2 separate regions of the Homo sapiens genome follow, and region 2 is linked to region 1. Evidence: fine-mapped expression QTL. A gene starts in region 1. The other region holds a variant in brackets. All regions are shown on one strand. Distances are between the middles of the regions. Region 1 holds the start of TRPM6 (transient receptor potential cation channel subfamily M member 6). Region 2 overlaps TRPM6 (transient receptor potential cation channel subfamily M member 6).

Evidence for each region.
Region 2: its variant is fine-mapped to the expression of TRPM6 in whole blood (INTERVAL, PIP above 0.99).

What each region holds. Positions count from the first base shown.
Region 1 is chr9:74,885,131-74,890,511 of GRCh38, forward strand. It overlaps TRPM6 (transient receptor potential cation channel subfamily M member 6), which reads right to left and starts at 2,791. Exons shown (of 39, transcript NM_017662.5): 1 at 2,694-2,791. The coding sequence starts at 2,726. RefSeq lists an enhancer at 1,883-2,177.
Region 2 is chr9:74,864,232-74,869,612 of GRCh38, forward strand. All of the region lies in intron 1 of TRPM6 (transient receptor potential cation channel subfamily M member 6), which reads right to left. Among named protein-coding and RNA genes, the nearest start is that of TRPM6, 21 kb to the right of the region's middle. The variant A/G (reference allele first, on the strand shown) is at 2,090.

The DNA.
Region 1 (5,381 bases):
GAGACAACTCTGGAAAAAAACAAGGAAGAAAGCTTTTAATAGCATGTAGGGAGGCATAATAATGTTGACCTAACTAAATATTGACCTAACCAAAAATTATGAGATAACTATATTCAGAGGATCTATGGAAGGAATAGGTAGGATGCATGTAAGTGGTAGTGGCAGGAAAACAGAAAAGAGTTAAATCCACACATTTCTTGCAGGAAAGTCAATGCATGATGACTAAACCTCAAAAACCAAGAAGGAGCAATTATAAGGAATATCTAGAGATACAGACAAATAGTAACTAGTTAAAAGAGATGAACATGATTACTTCTCTTAAAAAGCAGGAAGTGATGGAGGGTTCTACTGTTTTTAGATATTAACCCTATGGAATTAATTGATTCTGAACAATGAGAACGTAAAACTTCAATAAAACTAAGAAGTAAAGAAAAAAGGCACTAGTGAGACTCACATCATAATATCTTACCTAACAGTGATGGATTTTACAGAAAATAGTTGCCATGTAGACTTCTGATGTGTCACAAAGGAATAACTGAGTTATAGGTAGGATGGTCACTTTCAGTTCCAGCATGGTATTGATTCTACCAGAAGTATAATGAAAATCACTCAGATTATTTGGGCTGTTTATACTGAAAACTCATGATTTAAAACACAGTGAGGCCAGGCACAGTGGCTCAGGCCTGTAATCTTGGCACTTTGGGAGGCCAAAGAGGATTGCTTGAGCCCAGGAGTTCAAGACCAGTCTGGGCAACACAGCGAGACTCTGTCTCAAAAAAATAAAATAAAATAAAAAGTGAGAAATTTGAAAAAGAAGGAAAAAGAGAGAAGCCATATTTCAGGCACAGTATTTACCAAATGCTTGATAGTTTTGGCATAGATGTCCTATCCAAAAAATTAACTATGATAGATAATTGTAAATAGGCAAGATAAGACCAAAATTTGTGACAAATTGCAACATATTGCACGATTCTTTCCCTTCACCTCTGGTATAATGATCTCAAATGCTATTCATGCCCTTGTCTATCAAGACAAGTTTAACACTACCAAAGGGTACTAGTCTCCAGTTTTGGCCCAAAAAACAAAACTCATGCTAACTCCTACCCTAGATGGTTACCACTCCTGGTGGGAAACATAAGAAACAACCAGATTCTTAAAGTCAAGCCCAGATTCCAGTCTGGCCAAAATAGCTAACGCTTTATCAGTCCTGTAAGAACCCAAAGCAGATGACAGTGAAACATCAAAATCTGTATACAGGGGGAAAGAAATTGAATAACTCGTTTCCCACTTTAACAATTAAAGGTGATCATTTCTCCCTAGAACAAATAATCACAAATGATGTGTATGACTAGAACATCTATGTTCTCAGTGTCTTTTTTTCTCTTTTTTTTTTTTCTTTTTTATGTTCTCCGTGTCTTAAAGCACTGACCTGAGTTCAAATCTCAAATCTGCTTTTCTCCTTTGGTTTCATTTTCCTCACCTGTAAACCGGTGGAGATGGGAGAGACAGGATACTTGGACTTTATAGGATTACTGCCAGGATGAAATAGTTAAGAATCCCAAACTCTTACAACCTGCTAAATACGTCAGGCATTATTCTAAGTGCAAATGGCATGTAGCATTTCAATTCATCTTGAAACTACAAATCGTATTATCCCATTTTCCAGATGAGAAAGCCGAAGAACAGATGTTAACTCGCCCAAAATCACAGGTAGTGATGCAGCTGGGATGCTAATTCAGGCTACCTGGCTCCAGAGCATATGTTCTTATCAGAGCAGGCTGAAATGAGCTAACGTTTGCTAAGCTGCCTGGACTATTCCTGAAATACAATGTGCTCAATTATACTTATTTTTCATACACAGTGTGAGAAAGTCCAGACAAAATAGGCGAGACCAAGAAATTACCAGGATCTCCACTACTCTCCCAAGCGTCTCCAGTGCTCTCCCAACAGCCAGGAGCACCCTCCCTCTCCAAGCCCCCAGAACTTCCTGTTGCGCCATATGCCAGCGGTGGAGAGGAGCCAGCGGGGACTCCTGAGGTTGCAAGTCCGGGCGGCGCCGCGTTGGGGAAGGAAGCGGACTGCGGCGGGGCGGGTGTTTACCGTAACCGGCGCTGTCATCGCTCCGGGACTCCTGCACGGGGAACACTGGGCGCACGGGGACGCGCAGGGGCGCGGAGGGACGGCCGTCTGGGCACTTCTCCAGCCGCCTCGGAAAGCCGCGACCCCCGGCTAGTCAGCGTCCGGGTCTGAGATCTGTGCCCGTGGCAGCTCAAAACGCGCCTTCTCTCCTCCGGATTCTCAGCTCAAGCCACCTCCGAACTCCTCTCCCTCCGGCCCGGAGCGGAATCAGAGCTGCCTCCTCTCCCGGGGTGTTTCCCACCGCCCCGAGCTGAACCCCCGACCCCCGCTAGGTTTCCGCTCTGACACCACCTCCGCTATGGCCGCATCCCAGCTCTTGAAACGGGGGCTGCGGGACCTGCCCTGTAGTAGCGTACACTACCTTAGATAGGATAATCATCTTTGGGTGGAGACCAGAGAACTTGAAAGCCGGTATTTCATAAATCCTAGCTATTCTAGATCCTCGTTAGATGTAGTGTCCCTGGCCCCACCCACTTCTATCTAAGGCCGGGGGCGCAGATCTAGCGAATCGCCTAAGGTCCTTGTTCCCCGCCAGTCGAGCAGCCTGAGCTTACCTGCAAGCGCTCCAAGACAGGTTGTTCTTTCATCTTTGATTTGCAGGCCCTGCTCCCAAAGCCCTGTCTGAGCTTTTAACTGTGGAGGCAGAAACTCTGGGCTCCACCTCCACACGCTGCCTTTTACAGCCCAGTGGATCTGTCACAATACCTTTCGGCTTCAGTTACCTAACTGCCTAGAAAAGAAGGTGACTCTCAGTTTCCTTCGATAAAAGAAGAATAACGAGGATCAAATGGGATGGCCACTGTCATCACAGACATCCTTTGTAGTAATGTATTGTTACTGTTGAGTCAGTGTGGGGCGTGAGGAGATCAGAGATTTAAGCTAACGCACTGCTTTTACTACCTGTGACTTATTGGGCATGTCAAGCCTCAGTTTATTTATCTATGCAATGGGAATAATAGGGACAAAAATCCAGTTCCCTCACAAGGTTACAATGAACAAAGGAAATCACTTAATGTGCTTCATGTGTAACATACAATACAAATGTTTTGTTATTTCTGGTTTTTTTTTCATTTTTTTTGTTTGTTTTGTTTTGTTTTGGTGGATTCCTCTGGATAGGCATCTTCTCTTTCTTTCTTTCTTTCTTTCTTTCTTTCTTTCTTTCTTTCTTTCTTTCTTTCTCTCTTTCTTTCTTTCTTCTTTTTTTAGAGATGGAGTCTTGCTCTGTTGCCCAGGCTGGAGTGCAGTGGCAGGATCATGGCTCACTGCATCCTTGACCTCCCAGGCTCAAGTGATCCTTCCACTTCAGGCTCCAGAGAGTAGTTGGGACTACAGGCACACACCACAGTGCCTGGCTAATTTTATTTATTTATTTATTTATTTATTTATTTATTTATTTATTTATTTTAGAAATGGGGTCTCACTATGTTGCCCAGGCTGGTCTCAAACTCTGGACTCAAGCGATCTTCATGCCTCAGCCTTCCAGAGTGCTAGGATTACAGGCGTGAGCCACCATGCCCGGCCTAGGCAGTCTTGATTAAGGTTGTGGTCAGTGATTTGGGGTGGATCCCAGGGTGTTGGCAGAGGTGGCACAAAGCACACAGGCAAAATGATGCTCACATTATTACAAGTGTAATTAACAATGCTAGTCATTCATCCCTGACAACCGACTTAAAATTAGGGACACCTACTCATTTAGTTTATTATGAATTTTTGCCTGGTGAATTCACATTTGCAGACAGTTTACAGGTTTTTTCCCCTCATTTCTCAATGTGGTTTTAATAAGCATTTCTTTGTTTATTGGAAAATTGTAATCTCTCATATGTGTATTGGCATTTTGTTGTTTTTCTTTTTGTTGTTGTTGCTGTTGTTGTTGAGCCAGGGTCTCGCTCTGTCACCGGGCTGGAGTGCAGTGGCACTATGTCGGCTCACTGCAACCTCCACCTCCTGGGCTCAAGCAATCCTCCAGCCTCAGCCCCCGCAAGTAGCTAGGACTACATGTGCAAGCCACTACACCTGGCTAATTTTTGTAATTTTTGTAGATACGGAGTTTCACCATGTTGCCCAGGCTGGTCTCGAACTTCTGAACTCAAGCAATCCACCCACTTCAGCCTCCCTAAGTGCTAGGCATTTGTTGTTCTTCTATAAACACATTTAATCTCCTTTCCTCTCCTTAACCCATCTTCTTTAAAGCGTTAATCTGTAAACAGTTAACAGGTTCTGAAAGCTCTTCTAAGGCAAGTAAATCCTTCTCGATCTCTGTCTTCCATACAATTTCTTTGTTAGGTCTCTTACAGTGACTGGGTCAGAGAGTTCTCAGAAATCTTCAGACCCACCAAGAAGAGTAGCCATTTGGAACTCAAGATTTGTAAGAAGTCTACCATCTTCTAGTTTACCATCTTTGGTAAACCTACATGTTAGGATGATCATATATTCTTTTCAGATCAAGCTTCAAGGCATTTAGAGCCTGAAATACAAGGGCAATGTGAAGTGCTTAAAGCATTGAATGTACTAGTTTACAAGCTGCCTTTGGTTCCCAAGCTGTATCAGAAACATCTGAGGCATTTGTCAAAAGTGCAGATTCCCAGGCTCCAACCACCCTACCCAGATCTCTTGTATCAGGATTTATAGGGTGGGGCCCAGGAATCTGTATCTTTCACAAGCACTTTAATCAGTTGTCAAACTTGTATATAAAACTTCTTGTCCAGGCATGGTGGCTCATGCCTGTAATCCCAGCATTTAGGGAGGCCGAGGCAGGAGAATCACTTGAACTCATGATTTCGAGACCAGCCTGGTCAACATGGCAAAACCCCATCTGTACAAAAAAAAAAAACAAAAATTAGCCACGCGTGGTGGCTTACACTTGTGGTGCCAGCTACTTGGATGGCTGAGGTGAGAGGATTGCTTGAGCCCAGGAGGTCGGGGCTGCAGTGAGCTATGATGGCACCACTGCACTCCAGACTGGGCAACAGAGTAAGACCATATCTCAAAAAATAAATAAATAAAAAGAAAACTATTCTGGGCACAAACATACCTATGCCCAGGGTAGCTGTGAAAATTAAATTTTAAAATATTCATTAGTAGTCTAGTGTGGTTTGATTCAGGCCAACAAATATTTCCTGAACATAGACTGTTTGTCAGGCATCATGCTGGGCACCAGGAAAACAAAGATGAATAAGACATTGTCCAGTCTACAAGTAGCTCAAGTTTATAAGAGGAAGATGAACAATCAAAAATGAAACTGG
Region 2 (5,381 bases), 21 kb before region 1:
GATCAACATTTGTTATTTTTTCTTCAGAGTGCCTCCCTTGAAGCAAGAATCCCTTCAAAGTGCCAGGTAGATGGACATCAGGATGTACCATCAATCAATCTGTTGGCTCAGGGAATCCATCAGTGCAAAGCCAGCCCATCCACTTTCAAGTGTCAGCTCAGGGCCTTCTATCTGTCCAAATTCTGCAAGGATACCTACCTGACACTTGATCCGAGAGGGGCAGTCTCAGAAAAACAGCATCCAGGCTAAAAATATCTAAAAACCAAGTTCCTGTTCCACCAACACTACCAGAAAGTGTGTTGACTGATTTTCCACTAAATAGTCTGTCCAGGAGGCAGAGAACACAAAGTAACCTTACACCTTCATCTCACTTTGGTGGTAAAAGGTGAGCACTATTTAGCTGGTAGTAATTTATTTTTGGTAACATCTCTAAAAATTGAATGTCAACTAAATAATTCACAATTCCCTAAAACGCCATTTCTCCTGAGTAGTTGAGAAATTTTACTAACATTTTCACATAGTGCTTTGCTAAGCAAAGGCATTTAGAACCTTGGAATGAGGCCTGGTGCAGTGGCTCATGCCTGAATCCCTGTACTTTGGGAGGCTGAGGTGGGTGGATCACCTGAGGTCAGGAGTTCGAGACCAGCCTGGCCAACATGATGAAACCCTGTCTCTACTAAAAATACAAAAAATTAGCCACGCGCAGTCGTGGGCGCCTGTAATCCCAGCTACTCAGGAGGCTGAGGCAAGAGAATCGCTTGAACCCAGGAGGTGGAAGTTGCAGTGGGCTGAGATCGTGCCACTGCACTCCAGCCTGGGCAATGAGAGAGAAATTCCCTCTCAAAAAAAAAAAAAAAATGGAACGTCAGAATGAATTTCTAGATTATATAAACTCAAGAGTTAAGGAGTAAAACATTTATAAATCTTCCTGGAGCCAAATAGGGGATTAGAGGAACTCAACAGTAACCTTCCAAGTAAAGTGCATCAGAAAGGTGAAAAGTGAAGTGATATCATACCCCTTCCTTCCTCTTTCCAAATTGGTTGAAGCCCTCATTATTTCAGCCCCAAAACCCAATTTCAAAATAGCAGCGAAAGACATCCTTTTCCTCAGTTGTCACTCACGCTTCAGGGTTTAACCAGTCTCCTGGGGAATAAAACATGCAAATGAAACATTTATAATTTCAGATCTTGTTAAATCATTCTGATAAAAAGGGAAGAGGAAATGGAAGTCTCCTTTATGAGTGTACTTTACAACTGTCCCTCGATAGTAAAATACAGAGATTTAACCAAATGCTGGGCCTATTTGTAGTACAACCACTCTAATCTGGTTAGATTTTCCACCTACATGCACTCAATTCTCTCCAATTTCCAAGCTCCAAAATGCTCACAAATTTGTTATCTATGTACACAGATGGTCTTCATTTATGCTCCAAATATCTTGTTAAATTATCCAAAACTTTACTAGTACTACATGCAAATAAACTACATGACCTAAAATAAAGTCTTTTTTGGAGTGGCTCATGAAACTATGCTTTTATTTTTGTTTTAATACAGAGTCTTGCTATGTTGCCCAGGCTGAAGTGCAGTGGCTATTCACAGGCGTGATCACAGCACACTGTGGCCTTGAACTCCTAGGATCAAGTGATATTCCTGCCTCAGCCCCCTGAGAATCTGGGACTACAGATATGTACCACCATGACTGGGGAAAATATACTGTTAAATAATTGACTTTTAGGAAACTTACCAACCTCTCAGACAATAAAGCCTTTATTAGAAGTTACATGTTTGGCCAGGCATGGTGGCTCACGCCTAGAATCCCAGCACTTTGGGAGGCCATGGCTAGAGAATCATTGAGCCCAGGAGATCAAGGCCAGCCTGGGCAACATATCGAGACCCCGTGTCTACGTCCAATAATATAAAAAATAGAAACATTTTTAAAAAGAAGTTACAGGTTAAATTTTATTTATGACATTCATAGTAAGGTTTATATAGACAATGGAGATTATTTGTCTTATTTTTTTCAGTATAGCACAGCACAAAGAAGACACAACTGGATTTTGCTCCTTAAAATTTGGGGGACACTCATACC[A/G]CGTGTGTAACTTAGACAAATTCAAAAGCTTTGCTAAAAGAATGAGAGAAGGCTAGAAGGTGAAAAATAAGACAGAGAGAAAAACAGTTTTAATAGTGTGGGCAGTTTCACTGTCATTCCACTATCAGTAGGTTTGATTTTTTTGGGGGGGTTTTTTGTTTTTTGTTTTTTTGTTTTTGAGACAGAGTTTCACTCTTGTTGCCCAGGCTAGAGTGCAATGGCGTGATCTCGGCTCACTGCAACCTCAACCTCCCAGATTCAAGCGATTCTCCTGCCTCAGCCTCTTGAGTAGCTGGGATTACAGGCATGCCCCACCACACCCGGCTAATTTTGTATTTTCAGTAGAGACAGGGTTTTACCATGTTGGCCAGGCTGGTCTTGAACTCCTGACCTCAGGTGATACACCCACCTCAGTCTCCCAAAGTGCAGGGATTACAGGCGTGAGCCACCGCATCCAGCCTCAGGAGTATCTTATTTCCAAAAGCAGCAGTTCTGAAACTTCTTGAGCTTAGGATCCTTTCATAATCATAAAAACTACCAAGTACTCCAAAAAGTATTTTGTTTATTTAAATTATGTCTACCAATATTTACCACATATGAAATTAAAACTGAGACATTTAAAAATATTTACTTATTAGTTCATTTTAACCTGTTACATGCTAACACAAAAATTTTCCAAAAAAGTTCATAAACAGAGCACTGTCTTATGTTTTTGCAAATCTCTTTCATGTCTGGCTAAAGATGGCTAAATTCTCATGTTTGCTTCTGCACTCAATCCTTTGCAATAAGTGGTTTTGCTTGAAGTATACAAAGAAAATCTGCCTCACAGAGACATGTAGTTGAAAAGGGAGAGTATTTTAATGGCCTTTTTAGATCATTGTGTATTCATCATGTACCCTTGGGAAAACTCCACTGTACACTCATGAGAAAATATGTCAAAAGGGCAAATAGCATCTTAGTACCATTATGAAAATAATTTTGACTCTGAGGACCCTCTGAAAAGGTCTTAGAGACCTCTAGGAGTCCTTGGACCACATACAGAGAACTACTGCACACAAGTGACTGTGTGTAGACACTAGAGTGGAGTCTGTGAGAGCAAGAATATACCATTCCCCAGATGGTCTCAGTTCCCACATGCATATCTTAGTCTGCATACCTCATCTTAATGAGTAGATTCTAGATCCCCTGTTTAATCTGGTACTCAACTGAAGAAAGTTCCAACACAAGATAAAATCTTCATGTACTGTATTTTATGCTCAATGAAAGGGACTTTTCAAGGGTAGTTTGGAATGCATTCAATTTCTAAACTTACAGCCAACTTTAATGCCTACCACACCCACCCTCCAGAAGATGTCGTTAAATTCAGTGACCTTGGGAAGCTTGCGAAGTGTGGAACCAGCCCTTTACAATCCATAGGCAGGATACATCCTATCAGTTTATCCACCTCTTTTAAAACATTGAAACCTCGAAAGGAAGAAACAAATGAAAAGAAAAATTGATACCTCTAAGAATAATAGGTTTATTCATTCATTTAAAAAAAAATACTTTGATGGCCAGACGCAGTGGCTCACGCCTGTAATCCCAGCACTTTGGGAGGCCGATGCACAGGGTCACGTGAGGTCAGGAGTTCCAGACCAGCCTGGCCAACATGGCGAAACCCCAACTCTATTAAAAACAAAAAAAATTAGCTGGGCATGGTGGCACAGGCCTGTAATCCCAGCTACTCAGGAGGCTGAGGCAGGAGAATCACTTGAATCCGGGAGACAGAGGTTGCAGTAGGCTGAGATTGCACCCCTGTACTCCAGCCTGACAGAGCGAGACTCCGCAAAAAAAAAAAAAACTTTGACACCTCATGTTATTCTAATTAAAATAAATAAAACAAAAAAGTGTCCCGCCGGGTGTGGTGGCTCACGCCTGTAATCCCAACACTTAGGGAGGCCGAGGCAGGTGGATCACCTGAGGTCAGGAGTTTGAGACCAGCCTGGCCAACATGATGAAACCCCATCTCTACTGAAAATACAAAAATTAGCTGGGCATGGTGGTGCATGCCTGTAATCCCAGCTACTCGGGAGGCTGAGGCAGGAGAATCATTTGAACCCAGGAGGTGGAGGTTGCAGTGAGCTGAGATCATGCCACTGCACTCCAGCCTGGTCGACAGAGCGAGACTCCATCTCAAAAAATAAAATAAAATAAAATAAAATAAAAAGTGTCCCAAATGCCACCAGCAAATGAGAAGCACTTATGTTAACAAATGGATACTAAGTAAGGAAGTGGGTCATAAATGTTACAATCGTAGGCAACAGGACACTAGTGAAGGAGAAATTCCTTCTGCCTGTAGATACTTGAGATGTTTTCATGGAAGACATGGAATTTATGAAAGTTCTTGAAAGACAACAAAGGTTTTAAAAGGTGGCGAGGGTGTCCATGGTGGTTAGAAACGTGGAGATTTCAGCCTAGAGGAAAATTTAGAAGAGGTTCACTTTAAGGTGATGACAAAAGCCATGAGGTCACTGAAGGACAGATAATAGAGACGATCAAAGGGTCAAGAACTTTCAGAAACATCTAAACAAGGATGCAGAAGAAAGAGTTTGGGGGATAGAGAATAGAGACTTACTAGCCAGGATGGTGGTTTGATACCTGAATTAGGGAAGGGAGACAGTTTCTCAGTTTAGTAAAATGTTTGCATCATTATCAAAGTAGAAAATTTCAAAGAAAAACTGATAAGACATACTTAATACTAAAAAGAAGATAAGAAGAATGGCAATTTTGTCCACGATGAACAAATCAATTTCAAGAGATTCAGGAAAAAGGTTGTAAAACAGAGGAGATAGGTAGTTAGTGTAAGATTCTCTTGGGAGAAGCAATACTAAAAACAACAGTCAGGGCCGGCCTGTAATCCCAGCACTTTGGGAGGCCGAGGCAGGCAGATCACAAGGTCAGGAGATCGAGACCATCCTGACTAACATGGTGAAACCCCGTCACTACTAAAAATACAAAAAATTAGCCAGGCATGGTGGCACGCACCTGTAGTCCCAGCTACTCGGGAAGCTGAGGCAGGAGAATCACTTGAACCCAGGAGGCGGAGGTAACGCCACTGCACTCCAGCCTGGGCAACAGAGCGAGACTCCATCTCAAAAAAAAAAAAAAAAGAAACTGTCATAAATGGACGATATAAAGCAAAAGCCAACACTAAAGTAGTCTGTCGTATCTGCCAAAGGCTGGGAGGGCTAAATGTCTTAGGTGCTTTAGCTAAAGCAATATTCACAATTCTGTGGCTCATCACAGTACTATT